Linked DNA regions of Homo sapiens. The protein of the gene in region 3 purifies or fractionates together with the protein of the main gene of each other region. This does not show direct contact. Each region holds a gene or a part of one and is shown on either strand. Other genes may lie near its edges.

Region 1 (3,257 bases), on a different chromosome or scaffold from region 3:
GGCTTCTGACTTAGAGCTGATTCTCTACTAATTTTCTTAGGTAAACAGCAGTCCTGTTCAGCAGCCTGCCATGGGATAGTTAATGTGAGCAAAAGAAACTCCATGTGGATCACTGCCGCACCAAGCTTAACTGCTACAAATCTTTACACCCTAAAGTTGAAAATAAAGCAAAACAGACTTTCTGAGTCTGGAATAGCCACGGTATTTTGCCTGAAAAGAGCCACTCTATCCAGCATTGCCTCAGGTTATCAAGTGTTCCCCGACTGACTTTAGCCCTTGCTCCTTTAGTGCTTCAGACAACATCCCGAAGGCAGACGAAATCCGGACCCTGGTCAAGGATATGTGGGACACTCGTATAGCCAAACTCCGAGTGTCTGCTGACAGCTTTGTGAGACAGCAGGAGGCACATGCCAAGGTAGGTGCCGCCTTGCCTGGGTGCTGGTGGCCTTGATGCCGCATAATTTCACATGGCTCCCGTCTGCTGAGGCTATTACAGGCAGGCATTACTAGCTGTGCTTTTCAACAGTTCATTGGTTTCTTATTTTTATTCAGTAGAGTTTACCTTTTTCTCAAAATCAAAAACTCCTTGGCCAACTTGGTCTGTTTTCTTGCTTTAGCTGGATAACTTGACCTTGATGGAGATCAACACCAGCGGGACTTTCCTCACACAAGCGCTCAACCACATGTACAAACTCCGCACGAACCTCCAGCCTCTGGAGAGTACTCAGTCTCAGGACTTCTAGAGAAAGGCCTGGTGCAGGCGGCTTGCTGGGGGATGTGAGCGCTCAGGACGTGATGAGGTACTCGTGGTTCTGGAGCTCTAGAAACACTTCTGATGCATGAAAAATGTGTGATGGTGCAAGGAATGGATTCAGGATGTTGTTGGAGAAACAAGTTTGTGATTAGTCCTTAAAACTTAGCTCCCTGGGACATTCTTCAATTCCACATCTGTTTCTAGAAACCAGCCCTTTTTCCCCCCACTTTTGAGAAATAAAAAAGCCTTAGGTAAATAAGTCATTCTCCCTAGCAGAGCCACTTGGGTCTCCTGCATGGAAGCCATCACACTTGGGCAGGTGTTCAGTGACTGGTAGGTGTAGATACAGCAGGAGTGGCCATGTGGTCCACGGCTTTTTACCCCTTCTTGATCCTGATTTCTTGGGCTGAATTTAGACTCTCTCACAGAGGTGGCTCACAGAGAAGGATGGCAGATGGTGCAGCCAACAATGCTGACCGGTGCTTATCCTCTAAGCCCTGATCCACAATAAAAATGGACCCAACTCAGCTCTGACTCTCTAGGTTTTTGTGCTGCGTAACTACCAAGTAAAAGGACTGAGCCTGTGGCTGAGATGACTCAGTCAACGAAACTGAGGCACACGGCAGTTAAGTGGAAACTGCAGACCAACACCTGGGGTGTCTCCTTCTCTTGGCTACTTCTAGCTCAGGTTTAATGGGTTGCTTATCAAGAGGAGAGTCAGGAAAAAAACGAATCCAATGTATTGAGCATGAGTGACAATGTATTGAGCATGAGTGACAATGCTAGAAGAAAAGTCACTTTCAGTGCTGCTCTTGATGGATTTGGGGAAGGATTCTTTGTTGTAGGTAACAGTGGGCTCAGGGGAAATTATTTTTTTCCTAAGAGAAAATTACTTTATTCGTAGCATTTTGGAAATGTTAGGACCTTTACAGAAATTACATTACCTTGAGAGGTGAAATGATCGTCCAGCATCATGCAATGGATAGAAGGTTCTGTAATCAGCTTTAAAAAAAACTTTAATTTTTGGCCGGGCACATTGGCTTGGCTCATGCATGTAATCCCAGCACTTTGGGAGGCCAAGGCAGGTGGATCACAAGGCCAGGAGATTGAGACTATCCTGGCTAACATGGTGAAACCCCGTCTCTATTAAAAATACAAAAAAAAAAAAATTTGCCAGGTGTGGTGGCACACGCCTATAGTCGCAGCTACTCGGGAGGCTGAGGCAGGAGAATCGCTTGAACCCGAGAGGCGGAGGTTGTAGTGAGCCAAGATTGCACCACTGTACTCCTGCCTGGGCAACGAGAGCAAGACTCTGTCTCAAACAAAAAAAATTTTAACTTTTTTTTTAGACAGGGTCTCGTTCTGTCATCCAGGCTGCAGTAGAGTGGCGTGATTATAGCTCACTGCAGCCTCGAACTCCTGGGTTCACACAGTTCTCCCACCACAGCCTCCCAAAGCACTGGGATTGCAAGCATGAGCCGCCATGCCTGGCCAGCCTATTTTTGGCTGGACACCAGTGGGCCAAAAGCAGTGGGGTGCTGTCTGGGGAGCTCTGAGAATGCGCATGTGTGACAGGCTGAGCCTAAAGACTTATCACCCAGCATCTGCCCTCCAGTGTCTAGCATGCTGCACACTATCACTCCATGTTGCTGCCCACGTGTCCCCGCCAGGCAGGTTTTGGTGGTTATTTGGACACTGAAGGGTCAGACCTGGAAGACTGGGACCAAAAGATGAGGTCTCCATAATTTAAGGTGCTGTTCAGACTTGGTTCAGCTCATAGGACTTGTTCTTTCATCTCAGCCTTCCTTGGAATCCTCCTGCTTTCATCTGGGGATCTTTTAGAATGAAACCACTTGTTATTGTGGAGGGCAAGGGGTCCTAATGCCCTCCTCTTAGAGCCTGAGCCAGTGGAGGCAGCTCCGTCTGCGGAGATGTATAGTTATTGAGCTTTTCTTTGTTTGGCTTTGTTTTATATCATAAAAAAGATTTTCCTCTTAACATAATTTAGGAAGATTTTATTTTTTGGATGTTGTCAGAAATTACAGCAATATATTCATAAATACCTAATTACTACATTCAACAAATAATATTACAATACAATTAATTCAAACAAGTACACTTAGAACAGGTTTAATTTCACAGCATCTAAACTGCCCCCAGAGTGACCGAGGCACCGGTGTTCCTCCCTCCCACCTGCGTATGGGGTTTACTGTTATAGAATTAAGCACAGGGTACATACAAAATAACACCAGTTAGCATGGTCTTCCTCAGGTCAAGGCAGAGTTAAGGAGTTTTTTAGGTTAAGCACTGGATGGAAAAGTTGGGGACAGGCTACTGCAAGTAGTAAGAAAGTCAACAGCTTGGTTACTTGAAAGAATATAGAGATTGCTAAGTGGCTAATATACACTTTAAAGAGGAACAGAATCGGTTTGTGCTGACCATCTCCATCTTGTGGTGGATCCCTGGCATTTTCTACACTTGTGTGAAACATGTGGCTCAGGGA
Region 2 (3,500 bases), on a different chromosome or scaffold from region 3:
TAATATGGTGAGCTGGACTCCAATACAGGGACATCCAGGCCAGTTCACGGAGCAGGGACCTTCTCACCCTCACCACTTATTCCAGAGGTGGCTCATCCCCAGGCAATGACTTGAGCCATCCCTCTTGTCCCTTGGCAGTTTGGAAACACATGCTACTGTAACTCCGTGCTTCAGGCATTGTACTTCTGCCGTCCATTCCGGGAGAATGTGTTGGCATACAAGGCCCAGCAAAAGAAGAAGGAAAACTTGCTGACGTGCCTGGCGGACCTTTTCCACAGCATTGCCACACAGAAGAAGAAGGTTGGCGTCATCCCACCAAAGAAGTTCATTTCAAGGCTGAGAAAAGAGAATGGTGAGTAGTATGCAGTATAATGTATTTAAGCCTCTGAAATAAGGAGAATTGATGGTTCTGTATCTCCTCAAAAGGAAGAGCTGGCATTTTTTTGAAAAGGGAAAATAAGCATGGTTAACTACTCGGTGTCATTTTTTAAGAAACAACATTTCTTCTCTGCCCAGTAAACTTAAAACAAAACTGGGTTAGAAACATGCTTAAAAACGCACATTTATTATTCCAATTTAGAATGACCATTTTATTTGCTCCATTCTGGGCAGGATCATTGTAAGAGAGAATAGTGTCCAAGGCAGCCTTCGGAGTGGGATACTCATTGGCCTAAATTGGTTGATGCAATAATTAAATAAAATAGTACTGGCTTATAAACTTGTCATAGGTGATTAAAATAAGTGCCTGTTATCTAATCAGAGCCTCTGCTGTTTTAAATACAATACCTCTGATTTTCATTTGCCTGAGGTAATTGAAGGATATCAAATTGATTGCTTTATATGGTTTTTAAAAGTCCTGATTTTTCTGGTTTTTCTATCTTCTTCTTCTGGGGGATTGGTAGTAGAAACTAGGTGTGTATTCCAGAAGTTTTGTATTGGCAGTTTTTATGACTATAAAGATATTTGTTATGGCAATTACTATTTATCTTAGATTCAGCCTTACTTCATCAGACGTGCATGGTTAATCAGGTATTTGTTTTATAAAGTCTCTTTTAATTTGATTGCTGTATTTTGAAGTTACAGTTTATACATACCAGATTAAAACTAATTTCAGTGGAGAAGGAAGCAGAGCACTCTGTCGAGTTGTGAACGTGATTAATAATGAAGGTTCACAGCTGCATTCATCTCTGATTGTTTGTCCTTATGGCAGGGAGCAGCACTAGGCTTCTGGAATCATTTGTATTTGGTTTCGGAACACTATCAGATAGATGCTTGCTCACACATACCCTCATCTCCCTTCTGTGTTTCATCTAAGCTGCTTCCAGGCTGGTCCAGGGTTTAATATGATCTTTGGGAGGACACCCCAGTTGCTCTGAATAAATTACCCAATGAATAATTAATTGATCATTGGTAGTTACATCATATTAAAAATTGATATTTTATCAGGGAACTTATCTGATAACTTCTGTTCCTTTGTAGAACAAATAGAACTTTTGGTAGTTTTATATAAATGTGATGACTTTAGGGAGATACGGGAAATTTTGTTCTTGGTGCATGGCAGAAAATGGAAATGAATTAAAAAAGCTCTTTGGAAACTTACTCATTGAAGCTGCCTGGTAGAGATGAGTATATTTATATTCCATACCTGTCCATCCTTTCAATATAAAAGTTGAAGTATGGGCCAGGCGCGGTGGCTCACGTCTGTAATCCCGGCACTTTGGGAGGCCAGGGTGGGCAAATCACAAGGTCAAGAGATTGAGACCATCCTGGCCAACATGGTGAACCTGGTCTCTACTAAAAATACAAAAATTAGCTAGCTGGGTGTGGTGGCATGCACCTGTAGTCCAGCTACTCAAGAGGCTGAGGCAGGAGAATTGCTTGAACCTGGGAGGCAGAGGTTGCAGTGAACTGAGATCATGCCACTACGCTCTAGCCTGGCGACACAGCGAGACTCCATCTCAAAAAAAAAATATTTAAGTATGGCATGTAACACTAATTACATCCATTTGCTTTTCAAGAACCAGAGACTGAAATAACCACCTTCTCCTTTCCAGATCTCTTTGATAACTACATGCAGCAGGATGCTCATGAATTTTTAAATTATTTGCTAAACACTATTGCGGACATCCTTCAGGAGGAGAAGAAACAGGAAAAACAAAATGGAAAATTAAAAAATGGCAACATGAACGAACCTGCGGAAAATAATAAACCAGAACTCACCTGGGTCCATGAGATTTTTCAGGGAACGCTTACCAATGAAACTCGATGCTTGAACTGTGAAACTGTAAGTACTAGGGGAGCTCTTATGTAGCTCGCATGTTCATATTTATGTACGCTATGTTGCATGTGATTGCAATGTCGTATTATAGCATTTAGCAGTTATTTGCAGTGTATGTAAATAATCCTATTTATGCATATGAAACTCAAGTACAAACTTTTGGAAGCACATATCCATCCAGGATGTCTCAGCAGGCCAAAGCTGAATAATAAAGGAAAATCTCCTCAAATGCTGAATTGCTTTACACCATGGGGAAATTTTGGGGTCTACAGATTTAATCTATTGAATTGGATGTCAACCAGTTACCTTGCAAAGATTTTGGTCATGGGGAGGTCTTGTGTGATGTAGAACAGGACCATCACCCCAGTTTAGAGGCAGTCAGCTGTGGTATGTTGAACTTGAAGTCAGAAGACAGGCTAGACTCCTGTTTTTACAGCAGTTAACTGGGTATTTGGGGCGAGTTACTTACAGCACTGTTTTGAGGGTTGGATGAGCTTATGTGTTTGGATGGGTCTGACACATGGTAGGTACATAATGTTAATTGAATTTGAAGACATGTTCTCCAGAGCATGATTCAGGATGTCATATTTTCTTGGCATGTTTAACTTCAACTCTGTGGGTGGCCTCATATTTTGCTGCTTAAGAGCTGAGCTCTGGAGCCAGGCTGCCCAAGTTTGTATGCTGGCTTTTCTGCTTGTTAGCTAGTGGAACCTGTGCAAATTATTAATCTTCTCTGTCCTCACTTTCTTCATCTATAAAATAGGGATGATGAGAATGCCCATCTTGGAGGGTTGGTGGGAGGATTAAATGAGTTGACACCTAGAGCCATGCTTGGCACATGGCAAGTAGGCAATAAATGTCAGGTATTATTTTTTATTATAACTACTACTGACAGCATAGAAAGTCTATGGGTTCATTAAGGATCTCAGAGTTTCCTGACATTGTATGGAAAATTCTATAAGATTGTGCATTTTTCTGGAAAGAGAGGTAGTAGCTTTTGTCAGATTTTGCAAAGAGCCTGTGTCTTAGTCTGGTCTGCTACAACGCAATCCCTCATGAGTTGCTTAAACAACAGAAATTCATTTCTCACAGTTCTGGAGGCTGAAAGTCCCAGATGAAGGTGCTAGCAGGGTCAGGTTCTTGGTGAGGACCTTCTTTCTGCCTTGCAGACAGCTGTCTTCTGGCTGTGTCCTCACTTGGTGGAGATAGAGAAAGCAAGCTC
Region 3 (3,500 bases):
AATATGCATATGTTTATTTTACATATATAAATATATTTATATATAAATATACGTATATTTATTTTATATATATATGTGTGTGTGTATATATATATATATACACACACACACGTATATACCCAGGGAGAGGCACTAATTGTGCAGTTTTGAAAAGTTTCCTAGTGATGCTGCCGTGGCCTACTTTCAAAGCACTATGCTTAGGTTTACCACTTAAAATGTTATTACATTTTTCCAGAAGTACACTTTAAAATACTTTGTTTTTAAAGTGAGGCATTACAATGGTGTCATGAGCTGACATTCCCAGCCACTGACTGGAAGATTTGGGTCAACCCAGGGAACAGGCTTGGTTTAAGGGAGTTCAAGTGTTGGTGGCCTTTGGGTAAAAGTTTATGTCTATCTTTGTATGTGGGATTCAGTAGGGATTTTCTTTAATGTTAAAAATTCTAGTTTCCTCTGTATTTGCTTTCCTTCTTCCCCTGTCCTCCCTGAGCCTCCACACATGTGTAACACATTTTATTTGCCAATAGGTCAAGGAGGTTAAAAAGACTTTGTCGGGCTTGGAAGTCAGCATGGTTACTGCAGTTCCCGGTAGGCTACCAGTCATGACCATGATTCCAGATGTTGACTGCCTGCTCTGGGCCATTGGGCGGGTCCCGAATACCAAGGACCTGAGTTTAAACAAACTGGTAAGCTGGCTTGGTCTGCCCGAAACATTTGTGAATCTACTAGGAGTCTTATGGTTTTATTTTCCCCCCAGACACCCAAAACTTGGGTGGATTCCATTGGATTCTTTTCTCTTTTTCCCATGTATTCAGTTTGTGATCAAATTTCATTGCTTCTTCCTTTGAAATTAAAAAAAAAAGTTTTCTCTTCTCTTCTTTCCTTTTCCTTTCTTTTCTGTTTTTGTTTTTTTCTTTTTGTTTTTGAGAAAGGTCTTGCTCTGTCACCCAGGCTGGAGTTCAGTGGTGTGATCATAGCTCACCGCAGTCTTAACCTCCTAGGCTCAAGTGATCCACCCACCTCAGCTTCTGGAGTAGATGGAACTATGTGTGTGCCACAATGCCCAGCTAATTTTTTTATTTTTATTTTTTTTAGAGATGAGGTTTCACCATGTTGCCCAGGCTGGTCTCCTCGGCTCAAGCGATTCGCCCATCTCAGCCTCCCAGAGTGCTGGGACTATAGGCATGTCCCAGCATGTCCCAGAAAAAGGCCGCCACGTCTGGCCTTTTTCTTTTTTGTTTTCTTTCCTTTTTTTTTTTTTTTTTTTTGAGACAGGGTCTTGCTTTGTCACCCAGGCTAGTGTACAGTGGCATGATCATAGCTCACTGCAGTCTTGAATTCCTGGGGTCAACTGATCCTTCTGCCTCAGCTTCCCAAGTAGCTGGAGCTACAGGAATGTGCCACCACACCTGGCTAATTTTTAAGTTTTCTGTAGAGATGGAGTCTTACTATGTTGCCCAGGCTGCTCTTGAACTCCTGGCCTCAAGTGATCCTTCCACCTCGGCCTCCCAAAGTGCTCGGATTATAAACATGAGCCTCCATGCCCAGCCGGCCTGCCACCTCTAACCTAGTTTCCTATTGGCCTCCCTCTTACAGACTTCGTTTTTGCTATGTGAATGTCTCTTTCAAGTCCTATGCTGATCTTTTAGCATCTGTAGTAGGTAATCCAGATTGCTGGGTGGGTAACTGTCTTGTACATTGTACACAGGGATGGGAACAGATGTGAAGCTGTCTCTCTTGGCTCTACCCGTGCTGTCTGTATTTGTGGACAGTTGGCATTCTTACTTGTTCTTTTAAATGTTGAAGTAAAATCTAGAATGGGAGCTTGGGGTTTGGTTCCCAGAGTTTGACCCAAATTTGAACCTTAGTTCTTACAACATAACAGTTGCATGGCTTTGAGCAAGCAGCTTAATTTCTCTGCTTCAAGTGGTTCATATTCACAATGGGAATGAAAAAAGTTCTTGCCTCATTGGGTTATACAGAAGAGTAAATGAAAAAGTGCATGCAAAGTAATTTATAACTGAGACCCTAGCTTACATTATGAACACAATGAATGTTCACCTGCTATTGATAATGATGATGATTTTTCTGATATGCTATACTACTCTATTAGTAATAATAGGATATTTTATGTTTGAGGTGCATATATTTATTTTGTTCTGGGTTTTTTTGTTTGTTTGTTTGTTTGTTTGTTTGTTTTGAGACAGAGTCTTGCCGTGTTGCCCAGGCTGGAGTACAGTGTTGTGATCTAGCTCACTGCAACCTCTGCCTCCTGGGTTCTAGCGATTCGCCTACCTCAGCCTCCCGAGTAGCTGGGATTCCAGGCGTGTACCACCACGCCCGTCGAATTTTTGTATTTTTTTAATAGAGACAGGATTTCACCATGTTGGCCAGGCTGGTCTCGAACTCCTGACCTCAGGTGATCCACCCACCGTGGCCTCTCAAAGTGCTGGGATTACAGGCGTAAGCCACTGCGCCCAGCCTGAGGCGTATATATTTGATAGAGCTGCTTGAGCAGTGTATACCTTTTGACTTATGTTCTAATACTAAGTTCCTGTTGTAATGTGGATTCCTTTTCTGTTTCTGTAAAAGGTCATTTTTCTGCATGTTAACTTATAAAATATTCAGGGAGATGTTTTGATTGTTTGTAATCTTATTCAATGACATTTAGTAAAATTAATTGCCTATTTTCATATTAACAAAACTAGTCAGCCAGGCGCCGTGGCTCACACCTGTAATCCCAGCTCTTTGGGAGGCTGAGGCGGGTGGATCACCTGAGGTCAGGAGTTCGAGACCAGCCTGGGCAACGTGGTGAAATGCCGTCTCTACTAATAATACAAAAATTAGCCAGGCATGGTGACGCATGCCTGTAATCCCAGCTACTTGGGAGGCTGAGGCAGGAGAATCGCTTGAACCCAGGAGGCTGAGGTTGCAGTGAGCCGAGATCACGCCATTGCACTCCAGCCCTGGCAACAAAAGCAAAACTCCGTCTCAAAAAAAAAAAACCAAAAAAAAACACCAAAAGAAAACAACAACAACAAAAAACTGGTCATTCAGCTTTTCACCTTTCAAGAGATATTTTGCCATTGTACAGATGTAAGCACTGATAGGTCCAGTTTTCAACTAAATTTGCTAACTTTTTTTGGGGGGGTTGGATAGGGTCTTGCTCTGTCACCTAGGCTGGAGTACAGTGGTGCCATCATGGCTCACTGCATCCTTGCAGCATCAAACTCCTGGGCTCAAGCCATCCTTCTACCTTAGTCTCCCAAGTAGTAGGAACTACAGGCGTGGTCCACCACACCTGGCTAATTTTTAAAAAAAATTTTTGTAGACACAAGGTCTCGCTGTATTACCCAGGCTAATTTTGAACTGGGCTCAAGCGATCCTTCCACCTCAGCTTCCCAAAGTGCTGGGATTACAGGCATGAGCCATTGCACCCAGCCTATATTTGCTAAATTTTTGAAGAATGAGGCAAAAAAAAAAGGTTCAGTCTCATTTGA
Region 4 (3,500 bases), on a different chromosome or scaffold from region 3:
TGAGATTTTAATAGGAAGTGCATTAATCCTGTGTACCAATTTGGGAAGAAATTACAGCTTTACTATATTAAATCTTCCAGTCCATGAATTTATTTTACATTTATTTATATATGTCTTTCTTCCTTCGTTTATTTTCTTCTCCTTCCACCATCCCCCCCCCCAACCACCCCCACCAGAATCTTGCTGTGTCACACAGGCTGGCGACAGTGGCACAATCATGGCTCACTGCAGCCTCAAATTCCTGGGCTCAGGTGATCCTACTGTCTCAGCCTCCCAAGTAATTGGGACGACAGCTGCGTACTGCTGTGCCTGGCTAATTTTTTTTTTTATTATTTGTAGAGACAGGGTCTCCCTGCGTTGCCCAGGCTGGTCTCACACTCCGGAGCTTAAGCAGTCCTCCCACCTTGGCTTCCCAGAGTGCTGCGATTATAGGTGTGAACCACCATGTCTAGCCTTCTGGAAGAGATGGTGTAGAACTGGTATAATTCTTTAAACCTTTGGTAGAATTCTCCAGATTAAACCATCTGGATCTGGAAATGTCTTTGTTAGGAATTTTTTACATTTTTAATCCAATTTCTTTAATAGATACGGGGTTCTTCAAATTATCTACTTCATATTGGCTGAATTATAGAAGTTTACATTTTTCAACAAATTGGTCCATTTTGTCTAAGTTGTTACATACATGTGAGTGGAGTTACAGTATCCTGTATTATGCTTTCAGTGTCTGCAGGGTCTGTAGTGGGTCCACTGCTTTATTTTTTTAACCCTTATTCTTGCATACTGACATTGCTTCATTATTATTTTTTGTTTGTTTTTTGAGACAGCATGTCACTCTGTCACCTGGGGTGGAGTGCAATGGCACGATCTCAGCTCACTACAACCTCCACCTCCCAGGTTCCAGCAGTTCTCCTGCCTCAGCCTCCCGAGCAGCTGGGATTGCAGGCATGTGCCACAATGCCCAGCTGATTTTTGTATTTTTAGTAGAGACAGGGTTTCACCATATTGGCCAGGCTGGTCTCAAACTCCTGACCTTAAGTGATCTGCCTGCTTTGGCCTCCCAAAGTGCTGCAATTACAGGCATGAGCCGCTGCACCTGGCCTCTGATTTTTTTATATAGTAGTTTATTCATTTGAGACTTTTCCTCTTATTTAATGTATTCATTTACTGCTATGAATTTCCCTCTCAGCACTGCTTTAGCTGTGTCCCACTAATTTTGATAAATTGCATTTTCAATTTTTATTTGCTCAGTATATATATATTTTTTTTACTTTCCTTGAGACTTTCCTCTTTGACCATGGATTATTTACAAGTACATTGTTTAGTTTCCAAATGTTTGGAGATTTTCCCATTATTTTTCTGTTTCTGTCTTTTAGTTGGAATTCATTGTGGGAGTAGAGTAAGTTCTATTTGATTTCAATTATTTTTAACTTGTCAAGGTTTATTTTATTGCTGAAAATGTGGTCTATCTTGCTTTAGGTTCCATGGGTACTTTGAAAAGAATGTTTATTCTGCTATTATTGGGTAAAGTATTCCATAAATGTCAATTATATCTTTTTGATTGATAGTGATATATATAATTCTTTTATATCCTTGCTGATTTTTCTATCTAGTTCTTCTGTCGATTGTTGAGAGACAGGGGTTGAAGTTTCCAACTATAATTGTGAATATTTCTGTTTCTCATTTCACTTATATCTGTTTTTGTTTCACATATTTTATTTTTTTTATTATTTTTTTGGAGATGGAGTTCCGCTGTTGTTGCCCAGGCTGGAGGTGCAATAGCATGATCTCAGCTCTCCGCAACCTCCACCTCCTGGGTGCAAGCAATTCTCCTGCCTCAGCCTCCCAAGTAGTTGGGATTACAGGCATGCGCCACCACACCCGGCTAATTTTGTATTTTTAATAGAGACAGGGTTTCTCCATGTTGGCCAGACTGGTCTCGAACTCCTGACCTCAGGTCATCCGCCTGCCTCGGCCTCCCAAAGTGCTGGGATTACAGACATGAGCCACCGCACCCAGCCCTGTTGTTCAATATATACACATTTAGAATTGCAACATCTTCTTGGTGGCATGACCCTTTTATCTTTATATAATACCTGCTGAGTCTCTGGTAATTTCTTTTGCTCTGAGGTCTACTTGTTATCTGATATATTATACAAGTATCTGAGGGCTACTTGATATATTATAGCCTATATCTGATGATATAGTTATTCTTGCTTTCCTTTTATTGATATTCACATGATACATCTTTTCCATCAATTTACTTTCAACCTACCCATATCATTGTATTTGAAGTGATATCTTATAGGTGGCATATTGTTGGGGTGTATTAATCCGTTCTCGCACTGCTGTAAAGAACTACCTGAGACTGGGTAATTTATCAAGAAAAGAGGTTTAATTGGCCCACAGTTCCACAAGCTGTACAGGAAGCATGGCTGGGGAGGCCTCAGGAAACTTACAGTCATGGCGGAAGGTGAGGGAGAAGCAGGCACATCTTACATGGCTGGAGCAGGAGGAAGAGAGTGAGGGGAGAGGTACTACACACTTCTAAATAACCAGATCTCACAATAACTCACTCACTATCATGAGAACAGCACCAAAGGGGAACTCCACCTCCATAATCCAATCATTTCCCATCAGGCCCCACCTCCAATATTTGGGGATGACAATTTGACCTCAGATTTGGGCAGGGACACATACCCAAACCATATCATGGGGCATGTTTTTAATCCACTGTGCTGATTTATGTCTTAATTGGTATATTTAAATTTACACTTAATATAATTTCTAATATGCTAGAGCTTAGTTCTGCCACTTTATTTTTTGTTTGTGTTCTGTTTTTGTTTTCTTCTTGCCTTCCTGTGAGTTTCTTGAATATTTTTTAGAATTCCATTTTGATTTATCTATATAGTGTTTTTGAGTGTATCTCTCTATACAGCTTTTTTAGTGGTTGCTCTAGGTATTATACTGTACATACAACAGTCAGTTGGTGTCGTCTTATAATCTAAATGAAGTCTGTATCATCATTTTACAAGTTTAAGTAAAGTATAGTAACCTTACCTCCCTTTATGTCCTTTTGCCATCCTCCATATATAATTGTCTTAAATATTTTTTTTATATCAGACAGTGCTATAATTTTTGCTTCAGTCATTAAACCTAATTTAGAAAACTCAGAAGGAAAGACTATTTAATTACATTTTTGTTTACTATGTGCTTTCTTCTTTGCTGATGTTTTCAGGTTCCTCTTTTTTTCATTTCCTTTCTGTTTAGAGAACTTCCTTTAGCCATTCTTTAGGGTAGATTGGCCAGTGATAAATTGTCTTTATTTTCCTTCACCTGAGAAGGTCTCATTTTCCCCTTCATTCTGATATTTTCACTGGATATTGAATTATTTAGTTGACACTTCTTTTCTTTGAGCACCTGTAAAATACTGCATCCTTTCCTTCTGGCCTGCATGGTTTCTAATGAAAAATCCATGGTCTTTCCAATTGCTTTCCCTCAGG

The links. Proteins that work in one complex are often made in the same cells at the same time.
Region 1: the proteins of GSR (region 3) and GINS2 fractionate together in Homo sapiens (co-fractionation; one large-scale study listed by BioGRID). This does not show direct contact.
Region 2: the proteins of GSR (region 3) and USP46 purify together in Homo sapiens (co-immunoprecipitation; one large-scale study listed by IntAct). This does not show direct contact.
Region 4: the proteins of GSR (region 3) and GAB2 purify together in Homo sapiens (co-immunoprecipitation; one large-scale study listed by IntAct). This does not show direct contact.

The regions. Positions count from the first base shown.
Region 1 is NC_000016.10:85,675,698-85,678,954, reverse strand, and holds the end of GINS2 (DNA replication complex GINS protein PSF2), read left to right. Parts: intron 1-288; coding exon 289-415; intron 416-617; coding exon 618-743; 3' UTR 744-2,757; downstream 2,758-3,257. UniProt on the Homo sapiens protein: Required for correct functioning of the GINS complex, a complex that plays an essential role in the initiation of DNA replication, and progression of DNA replication forks.
Region 2 is NC_000004.12:52,624,802-52,628,301, reverse strand, and holds part of USP46 (ubiquitin carboxyl-terminal hydrolase 46), read left to right. Parts: intron 1-138; coding exon 139-352; intron 353-2,054; coding exon 2,055-2,284; intron 2,285-3,500. UniProt on the Homo sapiens protein: Deubiquitinating enzyme that plays a role in behavior, possibly by regulating GABA action. May act by mediating the deubiquitination of GAD1/GAD67.
Region 3 is NC_000008.11:30,686,347-30,689,846, reverse strand, and holds part of GSR (glutathione reductase, mitochondrial isoform 1 precursor), read left to right. Parts: intron 1-527; coding exon 528-686; intron 687-3,500. UniProt on the Homo sapiens protein: Catalyzes the reduction of glutathione disulfide (GSSG) to reduced glutathione (GSH). Constitutes the major mechanism to maintain a high GSH:GSSG ratio in the cytosol.
Region 4 is NC_000011.10:78,407,821-78,411,320, reverse strand, and holds part of GAB2 (GRB2-associated-binding protein 2), read left to right. Parts: intron 1-3,500. UniProt on the Homo sapiens protein: Adapter protein which acts downstream of several membrane receptors including cytokine, antigen, hormone, cell matrix and growth factor receptors to regulate multiple signaling pathways.